3 linked regions of the Homo sapiens genome follow. The protein of the gene in region 3 interacts with the protein of the main gene of each other region in a pairwise test. Each region holds a gene or a part of one and is shown on either strand. Other genes may lie near its edges. The genes, in order: DPH3, NAA20 and ADIPOR1.

Evidence for each region.
Region 1: the proteins of ADIPOR1 (region 3) and DPH3 interact in a two-hybrid assay, tested with the Homo sapiens proteins (one large-scale study listed by BioGRID and IntAct).
Region 2: the proteins of ADIPOR1 (region 3) and NAA20 interact in a two-hybrid assay, tested with the Homo sapiens proteins (one large-scale study listed by BioGRID and IntAct).

Annotation. Positions count from the first base shown.
Region 1 is NC_000003.12:16,259,243-16,262,093, forward strand, and holds part of DPH3 (diphthamide biosynthesis protein 3), read right to left. Parts: intron 1,588-2,851; coding exon 1,522-1,587; 3' UTR 1-1,521.
Region 2 is NC_000020.11:20,030,599-20,034,155, reverse strand, and holds the end of NAA20 (N-alpha-acetyltransferase 20), read right to left. Parts: intron 1,649-3,557; coding exon 1,503-1,648; intron 1,055-1,502; coding exon 969-1,054; 3' UTR 501-968; downstream 1-500. UniProt on the Homo sapiens protein: Catalytic subunit of the NatB complex which catalyzes acetylation of the N-terminal methionine residues of peptides beginning with Met-Asp, Met-Glu, Met-Asn and Met-Gln. Proteins with cell cycle functions are overrepresented in the pool of NatB substrates.
Region 3 is NC_000001.11:202,951,676-202,955,335, forward strand, and holds part of ADIPOR1 (adiponectin receptor protein 1), read right to left. Parts: intron 2,633-3,660; exon of another isoform or gene 2,566-2,632; intron 1-2,565. UniProt on the Homo sapiens protein: Receptor for ADIPOQ, an essential hormone secreted by adipocytes that regulates glucose and lipid metabolism. Required for normal glucose and fat homeostasis and for maintaining a normal body weight.

The sequences.
Region 1 (2,851 bases), on a different chromosome or scaffold from region 3:
TTTCTCATCACATCCAGAATATGCCACATAATGTACTGAGCATTTTCAGCTCGGTACATTATAATTTTTGGTAATTTATTGTCTCAGCCTAGTGGCTGCACACAGCCATGCTGCTGGCAGGTAAAAAAGGCTACTCACTTGTTTTAACGTCCAATGAATGTGTGCAGTACATTTACCAGTAACAGAACATTTACATTCTAGCAAGCTATTTTTCTAATTGCAGAAGCCATTCCTAAAACAACCTGACGGACATCACTGCATTAATAAATATTTTTTATTTATACACAGTAAAGTTGTGTATATAAAGGGAATTTTCAAATTTCCAATGTAAATGATTCTAATTTCTTGCTATGCTTAGTACTGCAGCAAAAGAAGGGTGATAGCCTATCTTTATATATTTCTTTTTCTCCAGGGCAACATTTCTCTGCAGGAGTGAATGTCTGGTTTGGCTGCATGTTATAGAGGCTTATTAAATATGCTCTCATGGGCATATTTATTCACAATAGGTCTCTCATTTTCAAGCTCATTCTCCGCTGTAGATGCTTTACCTTGTAGTAGTGACACAACACTGTGATATGCCAAAAGCACAGCTACCAGCCATGGAAATTTGACGTTAACCCCTACCTGGAATGCAATTTCATTAGCCTTATCAAAACACAAACAAAAACTCAGATACAGAAATATTACTTGCTCTGACCTGGCAAAGTCATTCAAACATTCCACTTACTACACTGGTATGCTTTGCTCCTCTCATTCTGTCACCAATTTCACTTCTTTTGGATGTTTTTCTTTTCATCTTGTCCTGACTTCCAAGGAATATGCAGAATATAAGAAAAGTCCTCATTCTTTCATCACTTCATTTTGGACTTTCTTTCTTGTTCACTAACTTTTAGCTCTGGAGACATTGTGACCTCACTGTATTTTCTCTTTAATACTATGACCAAACTCTCTGCATGAAGCATTACAGAAATGACACGCTGAACAGAACATGTCCATTCTAATGGGAAAACTGAGGAGACTGGCTTGGTATAGAAACTGGAAGTGTGGTACTGATGAAGCAACTAATTTTAAATTTAGAACAGCAAAGCTGATGTCATATTTCAAAGGAAGGGCTAATTTTAATAATCTTAATAACCAAGTCAAAAATACAATCTCTTTTTTATTAAGAAATCCTAATGACTGAGGTAGATGATGCTGTTGTCAGATACCGAAGTAATTTGGTTTAAGATATGAAAATGATGAAACCAAGGGAAAGAAAGCACTGTTTTGAAATTATCTTCTTTTAAATTTAGATGCATAATTAAGAATGCTTCCAATTTAAGGTTCTAAGCACAAAATCCAGATATGTCATGTTATGGACTTGCTTCCTGAAGATGATATCAGCAGTTGATAGAAAGAATCCACACTCTTACAGAACAGCAAATCATAAATGGTTGTCTCTGTGAAGCCAGTAGCTTTGCATTCGATATTTCTATCTGGGCTCATTCCAAATGTTCAGGATTTGGATTCCTGAAGGCTTCTTCAGCATTTAACTAATTCTTTGTTGGCTGAAGGGGCTGGGACTGTTTCTCCACACACAAACTGATCCTAAGACAGAGTGAGAAATGACATTAACCAATGAATTTCCGGTCACAAATACATTAATATTAAACCTTCATTTTGTTACAGCATCAATCCAGCGCTGTTAATTGTTTTTCATTTGCTATTATCATTTCATCCTTGTTCAAAGAGCCAATGACAGCACCAGAAGTAGAATCTTAAACATGTATCAGTTTTTTGATCTGAATTCATTATTTAATACAAAGCACCTTATAAACAAACATCCCTATCTTCAGTTCAGAGCAACCACTTCTCAGAAATCACATAAAGACATGCCACATATTTTAAATTTCTGTATTAATTACTACTTACACTAAAACTTCTCCACTTTAATATTTGGTCATTCAAATACCAGTCCTCTTCAAAGTAATTACTTCTTCTAACTAAAAGGGACAGGTCTTTATGTGGTTCCCAACATGGATAATCTGCTATGTTAGCTACTTTGTAAATGAAGTTCAATCTCTGGTCTTTTATCCTGGCTTATGTCAGCTACCACCAAAAATCTCTGCTTCCAAGGTTATCCCTCACCTCCAGCAATCTGATTCCCGAAGGATCAGCCCCTACTCTGTCCCTGCTACTCTGTTGCCCAATATGTGGAACCCTTTCACTGTGCCCTTTGGAATTCATGGTCCATTGTTAGCACAATGCTTCATATTCTCAACCTCTTTCTCAAAATGTCCTTTTATCCCCAAGAGCACTGGTAATATCTGGAAACAGTTTGAATTGAAACAACTGAGGATTGCTATTGGCATCTAGTAGGTAGAGGCCAGGGATCCTGCTAGACATCCTATAATGCACGGGGTATCTCTGAACAACAAAGAATTATCAGGCCTAAAATGTCAACAGGGCTGAGGTTGAGATGAAGTCATATTCTTAAGGACAGTTTCCCCTACAAGCCCATCTAGTGGAGGCTCTGTGTTCTCAGAGTCCTAGTACCAGAGGGATTGGAAGTGGGGCTAGTTCCTCCTTTTTGCCTCCATTCTCCTTTCCTGTCTAAAACCCATCAGTTTAGAATCTTATGTCTTGAGACTACCGCCTTGCTATTCTTCTCTGTTGCTGTCATTTATCCACCCTGGATGCCATATTCCAACCCCTCTGGACCTCCACCATATTCATCCTACCACCCTTTCACTGCCCCTCACTCCCTTCATGTTCTCTTTACCTAGTTCAAACTCCATGGTCAGTTATAACCACTCTTCTCTCACTCCTTACTATTCACTTGGGAAAACCTTAAACCTGGTTAAATCTAACT
Region 2 (3,557 bases), on a different chromosome or scaffold from region 3:
CAGGATTTAAGCAAAGCATTGTGAAGAGGAGAAAAGATCTAGGACTAACAAACAAACAGTATAATGGTATGAACGCAGGTGACTGGGAAGAATTTACTACACGATAAGAAGGGAGCTTCTTAAGTATGCTGGACAGTGATTGCTTCAAGTGTGCATTTTTAAAATACTACGTATGGAAGTCACAATTTAATTAAACGTATCTTAAATGATGATGACCTTTCACAATCCTGATTTTTTTTTTTTTTTTTTTTCTTGAGGCAGGGTCTTACTCTGTTGCCCGGGCTGGAGTGCAGTGGGACGATCTCAGCTCACTGCAACCTCCACCTCCAGGGTTCAAGCAATTCTTGTGCTTCAGCTTCTGCATAGCTGGGATGCCCAGCTAATTTTTGTATTTTTTTTAGTATAGATTTTGGCCAGGCTGGTCTCAAACTCCTGACCTCAAGCAATCAGCCTGCCTTGGCCTCCCAAAGTACTGGGATTACAATCTGATTTAGTTTTACAAATGACTAACAAACTTCAGAAAACATTCATAGAGTCAATAATGTATTATACATCTTAGATTTATACATTTCATATATGCTTTTAAAGCTTCAATTAACAGTTCAATACAAAATTTAAAAACAAATATATGCAGCAGTGGTTCTCAGGCACAGAACTGAGGAGGAGACTGGAGCAAGTCTTTTCCCTAGCATACATACAGTGAATACTATGAACCATGAGAGTGGTATGTTTCCTTCTGACCTAGCTGCCTTTTTGATTGAATTTTGTTACAATGAACAGCTTTAATAGGTATGATATTGCTAACTGGAAACAATGAGATTTAAAATAAATTGATAACCTGTATTTTCTTGAAGTCTTTAAGACCTAAAATGATTACTTTTCTCCTAATAGAGCTCCAGAATCATCCAATGAAAATAATATTGTCCATAAAGCATCTAGAGTATCTGCCTAAGAACCACTGCCCAGGGTTATTCAATGTCTTCAGGCCTCACAGGATGAGGTAATGGTATGATGGATTTCTTCTCAGTATCCCTGGAAAGTGCTTTCCTCATATCTGTAAAGAAGCAAAGTTTAATATAAACACCCAAAAAATGTATTATATCAAATGTAAAGTGTATAGGTAAAGTTCCCATAAGAGGTTTTATCCCTACCCCCACTTCACCATATTCTAAGCAAAATGTATTTATAAATGTCTCCCAATTGCCAAGTGTACCAGATGCTAACCAGACCTCACCCAGTATTCAGCTCACAATACACGTTTTCTTGTTAGCAAAATAATATGTATGTAACAGAGTGAAACAGTAAGGTACAGAAATTAACCATTGGTTAGTTAATAGGTAAGTTAATTACTACTACTAATAGGTTGATAAAGGTAGGTTGAGGGAAATTTAAATTTTAAAGTCAAATATTCTACATTTATTAAAATAATCAAATACTACAATCTGTAGAAAGAATGTAACTGTTTCGACTTCTTGGGGATACTGCCATGGAAGGGAGCTTACCATAAGCGTCCTCATCAGGCTCCCCGTTGCTGGCCGAATAGTACTCTATGACCGTCCTATATACACTGTAGCCCAACTGCTTGTACATGTTAACTGCAACTTGGTTAGATACTCTTACAAAGAGATCCACAAAAAATCCACCCTTTCTTTAAAAGAAAAACAAAAAAGGAAAATGTTAGAATGTGAGAAACCCTAGAAAGTAATAGATACATATTTTTTTTAAAACGTGTTTTTACCTTGCTTTGACTACTACTCAGAATGGTAGTAATAGGACCTTGTAGCTGATTACATGGTAATAGAAATTTGTATTACTTAGGATTTATGACAATTACTTTGCAGTGTAAGAACATGACTTTATGTTTGCATGCTAGTATTTCAAAAGCAACACGTTTTCTTAAAAGATAAACTCAAGGCATTTGTTCTACAAATTCACCACCTATTACAGTTTCTCCTGTTTATGAAGTTTATATACATGGAATCATATATTCTTTTGTCTTTTGCTTCTCTCAGTCGACTAACATTGTAAGAGTCAGCTTCAAGAGTGGCTGGGCTTGTGCACAAGTCATTCACGGTCCTGTTGATACGTTTCTGGCTTTTACTATACAAACGATGCTCCTGTGAATACTTCTGTTGAGTGTCTCACGTAAGGTCTATAGCTAGGAGTCTCACTGTTGTGTCACAGGGCACATCTTCATTAGTTAATACCAAACTGTTTTTCCAACTGGCTTGTACCAACTTACTCTTGCACAGAAGTGAGTAAGCCTCCATTCCACAGCAACAAGGCTTGGTGCATCACATGTTTTTATTTTTGCCAATCTTACAGTGTAACTATATCTCAGATTTTAATTTGTATTTCCAATTACTAACAATGCTGAATATATTTCTGTTGGTTGGCCATTTAGATTTCTCCTTCTGTATAGTACTTAAATCTTTCATACAATTTTTCCCCCGCTACAGTTCTCTATGTATTGTGAATATTCAATACTGTGTAATGTCTGCAAGTATCTTTTTCCAATTTGTGGTTTGTCTTGTCATTATCCTTATGTTATCTTTTGATAAAAAGTTACTTCACTTCAGTGAAGCTGAATATATGAATCCTTTCCTTAGCCTTTTTATGGCCTTTTTAAAAAGTTCTACACTGAGGCCACAGAGACACTCTGCCATATTATATTCAAAAGACTTCTTAGTTTTGGTTTCACATCTAGGTTTTTAATAAATCTGGAGTTGATTTGTGTATGGAATAATGGTAATCTGGGAAATTTTTTTTTCCCATAGGGACATCCAATTGTCCAACCACCTTTACTGAAAAGTCTATCTTCATACTATTGATGTGCAATGCCTCTTCTGTGGTATGTTAAAGTCCATATATTCTTGGGTCTGTTTCTCAAATTCTGTAACACTGGTCTAGATAACTACAGCACTAAGATATAGTCTCACTCTTTACAGTCTGATACCTGGAGGGGCACATCACCCATTTTTGTTGTTGTTCAAGAATATCTTGTCTCTTTTTTGCTCTTTCTGTTCCTCTGTATGTTTCAGAGTCAGCTTAACAAGTACTATAAAAAATGCTTGGGATTTTGACTGCAATTACATTGGAACTGCGGTCGATTACCTGTTTACTGTATCCTCTAATCCAGTGATAGTTTATCGCTCCACTTATCAGGGCTACTTTAATATCTCTCAAAAAAGTTTTTTAAATGTCAGAGAGGTCTTGCATAGCACTTGCTAGATTCTTAAGTACTTAATGTTTTTTCATGCTATGGCATCTTTTTCTAAATTTTACTGTTTATATATATATAAATACAATTGATTTTTATACTGACTTTCTATCCAACAACCTTGCCTACCTTTTATTAATTCTAAACATTTATTTCTAGATTCTTGTGGATTTTATATTTGTATAATCATATCTGTGCAAAATAAGTAAGTTTTGTTTCCTCTCATATGTAAATACAATTGATTTTTATACTGACTTTATATCCAACAACTTTGCCTTTTATTAATTCTAAATATTTATATTCTTATGGATTTTATATTTATATAATCATATCTGTG
Region 3 (3,660 bases):
TGTCATACATACAAAAGGAACTTGGTTGTGGGACAGATGCCTAGTGGTTAATTTCTCTGCGAAGTCTACTAATTCTATTACAGGATTATAGCCTGAGTTCAACCCTGGGATAACAAGCTTTCATCACAATCTGTCCTGCAAGCAAGCAAGAACTTACCTGGAAGCAGGAAGGTGAAGACAAGGAGGCAGCCCCAATTTACCCTTTGCCACACACATACCTAATAACCAGCTCCACAATAACTTGTTTCAACCACCACAACCCATAATCTAAGCCCTACTCAAATGAGTATTTCAGAAACTAGAGACAGGCACACACAAAATCAGAAAAACCCAGAATTCCATTTTCTAGGAAAAATCTCAGACACTTTAGGTTTTCCTGGGTTGGATTTTCACAGTAGTCTTTAAACAGGCCTCAGGGAAATGCAAATAAAAAAAGAGGGAAAGAGGGAGAAAGTTTCCAAAGATTTCCACTATGCTGTAAATTATTAGTTCTCTCCCCACCTCTACCCCCATACAAAGGACTTTATTAGTTATAGCAATAGCAGTAGCCAGAATATTAGCATTTTCTTGCATTGGTTACCCAAGCCCCACCCAAACCCAAATAACCACATTGCAATGCAGGGAGGGCCAGGTAACAACTGCACATGGAGTGGGTTGCATTCCGGGAGAGGAAACTTAAGCTTAGGGAGCCCCAATCTTTTATATTGGGCAGTAAACATAACTTTGCTCCTGAGGGAGACACTATATCATCCATGGCTATTCACTATATACAAATATCTTTGATATCTTGTGTCAGTTCTTTTTTATCTAAGAGTAATCACAATTCCTTCTCAGGGATTATAAATCTCTTTCTCTGACTCCCTAACTCTCTCTGTCTCTCCCCCTCCTTCCCTCCTGGAGCTGGGACACCCTTCTTTTCCTGCCCTTGGACATCAGAAACTCCAGGTTCTCCTGCCTTGGGATTCCGGGACGTGCACCAATAGCCCCTTGGGTTCTCAGGCCTTCAGCCTTAAACTGAACCAGTTATGGACTTTCCTCATTGTCTAGCTTGAGATGGCATAGTGTGGGACTTAGCCTCCATAATCTCATGAGCCAATTCCCCGAATAAATCCCATCTCTATCCATATGTATGTATCCTATTGGTGCTTTCTGGAGAACACTTACTAACACATCAGGTAAGGGCAATCCTCAAGCTTCTAAACAGTCATGAGTCATGCTATGCTCAACCCACAAGCACAGTTGAAAGCAACCGGCAATCTAGTCCAAGAGAGACAAAAACAATAACTTGCTATACAGCAGACCTTTATATGGTGTCAACACATAGACAGTTCCTCTTCCTTTAAATGTGCAAGACTCTGACGAGATGCCAGCACACAGTCATAGTGAACAATTGAGCTAAGGAGAACAGGAAGCTGGAAGCCTATGAAAACCTCGAGGATGGGCAACCCGTGTGAGAGGGACACAAGGAAATCTTTCTCAATAGGCTGACCTCAAAACATATTTCCTCAAAGTGAAGTACTACTGAATCAGCAGCTTTACTAAAAAATACTTTATATCGCAAGCAAAAAAAAAAAAACCAAAAAACAACTTTATATCACAAGCAAAAAACATAAATATTTTTGGGCATCTTAGATAAATCTGAAAAGAGGGGCACACTTAGCTTGTTACTTACTAAGTTACTGTTGGAAGTAACTTAGATCAGGCTACCAGGGCAGAAACAAAACAAAACAAAACAAAATTCTGGTTCTGAGATGCAATACATGGATCATAAAATAATAAATATACTTTATTTTAGTTAGAACCCATTTCAAAATGAATGAATGAATGGGGCAGATTCCAGCTTGCCAGCATATGACTTAGCTTCTAGCCACTTAGATAAGGGCTTATGTGCATTTTCTTGTGCTTGTGGTGGCTTCTCTTATCCCTTTCCCCAGAGTAAGTCAACACATTCATTGAATATTTAGCAAGTGTATTTAGGACTAGCACCCTAAGGCATTCTAAGACACTGTGCAAAATACAAGACACTGTGCAAAATACAAGTTGAACAAGTTATAGTATTGTTTTCAAAGAGCCAGATAACATAGGTAGTTTGTGATATGCACAAAAATAAGTGATACAATTTGATTGCTCCAGGAGGGCAGTGGAGGGAGAGAACCCCTCAACTAGAATGGTCACACACTAAATTTAGTAACTTTGAGTGCTATGTAACTATTTTACTAGAGGCAATGAGAATAATATAGAGAAAATTTAAGTTGGGCAATTAGGGTCCAAAGATCATGTGCAGAATCCAGATTGGCATTCTTACTAATTTCATCATTTGATCTGAAAAGTTTTTATGCCCTCAAGTCTTCTGGCTATCATCAAAGTCTTTTCCTTTTTCAGTCCAAATCATTTACTATTAGTTCTTCCGATTCCCTCTAGCTCCTCTATCACTAGCTCCTATACCACCTCTCTACATCTTCTAGACCCAGAGTCACCAAAACCTGAGACCCCAGTTAACTCACAAACCAGCCATCAGCTACAACTCATCATACAAAATATATCATCATGCATTAAAGTACATACAATGGAGGTCAATGGAGATCATGTCATCATAGTGAGCAAAGTCCATTGTCCAGTTTGGTCTTCTAAACTGTAGTAACACAGAGACAGGAAAGGGAGAGATAGGGATCGGACGTCTGGCAAGAAAGAAGAGCAAATAATACTAGGATCTGAAAATACCACTTCTATGGGGTGGATCACTCACAAACAATGGAGAATTACAAGTGTGTTTTAGTCTATGGTGTAAAATCAGAACAAACCCCTAAGGTGTTAGAACGATCCTAGGTGAGCCAACCTTCTGCCAGCTTTCTATGTCCTTACGTATTTTAGAGGAAATGCCTTTCCCCTCAAGCTTGCCACACCCAATACTGCAAATTATATTTGAGCCAAACTCGACTGAGTGCATTTTTGATGAGATTTCTTCAACTCAAGCTAATAAACCTTTACCACTAAGCTTTCCAACTGGGTAAACCTAGGATATTAGAGAGTAAAGCTGTGGAGCAGGGAGGTTGTTTGTACTCCTATAAATAAGATAATCCTGTGCCAAACATGGGGAAAAGATTGATTTTTAATCACCAGCCAGTTAGCTGGAGAGTTATTTCACTTATAGTTTTTGGAGACATTTATATTGTGAACCAATTCCCAAGTTTTCCAGGCTACGGCACACCTTTCCTGGAGGCAAAGACACAAAGTTTCTAAGAGTTTAGTTCCTGGGCCTTTAGAGAGTCTATGGGTAGCCTCTATCCATACCTAGCTTGATTCTTGTCCTAAAGCAAGACCAGTCTAGCAGTATAGATAAAGAATACAGCCATTTTTCCCCTATCTACTGTCTCTTAGGCAGGATAATTTCACAGCTTTGTTGGAGAAATATGAATCAAAGCAAAGGCACATGTTTGAAATCACCGAACTACAGTATATAGGGCCTCAGCTCTCCTACTCGATGCCAAGCGTCCCAGACTCTGAAGTGGAAAAACAGTCTGACTTCCTTTGTAGCTCTTCCCCAACAGAAGTCTTTTTTTTTTTTTAAAAGGGTCTTGCTCTGTCATTCAGGCTGGAGTGCAGTGGTGTGATCTCAGCTCACTGTAGCCTCAATGTGCCAGACTCAAGCGATCCTCCCAC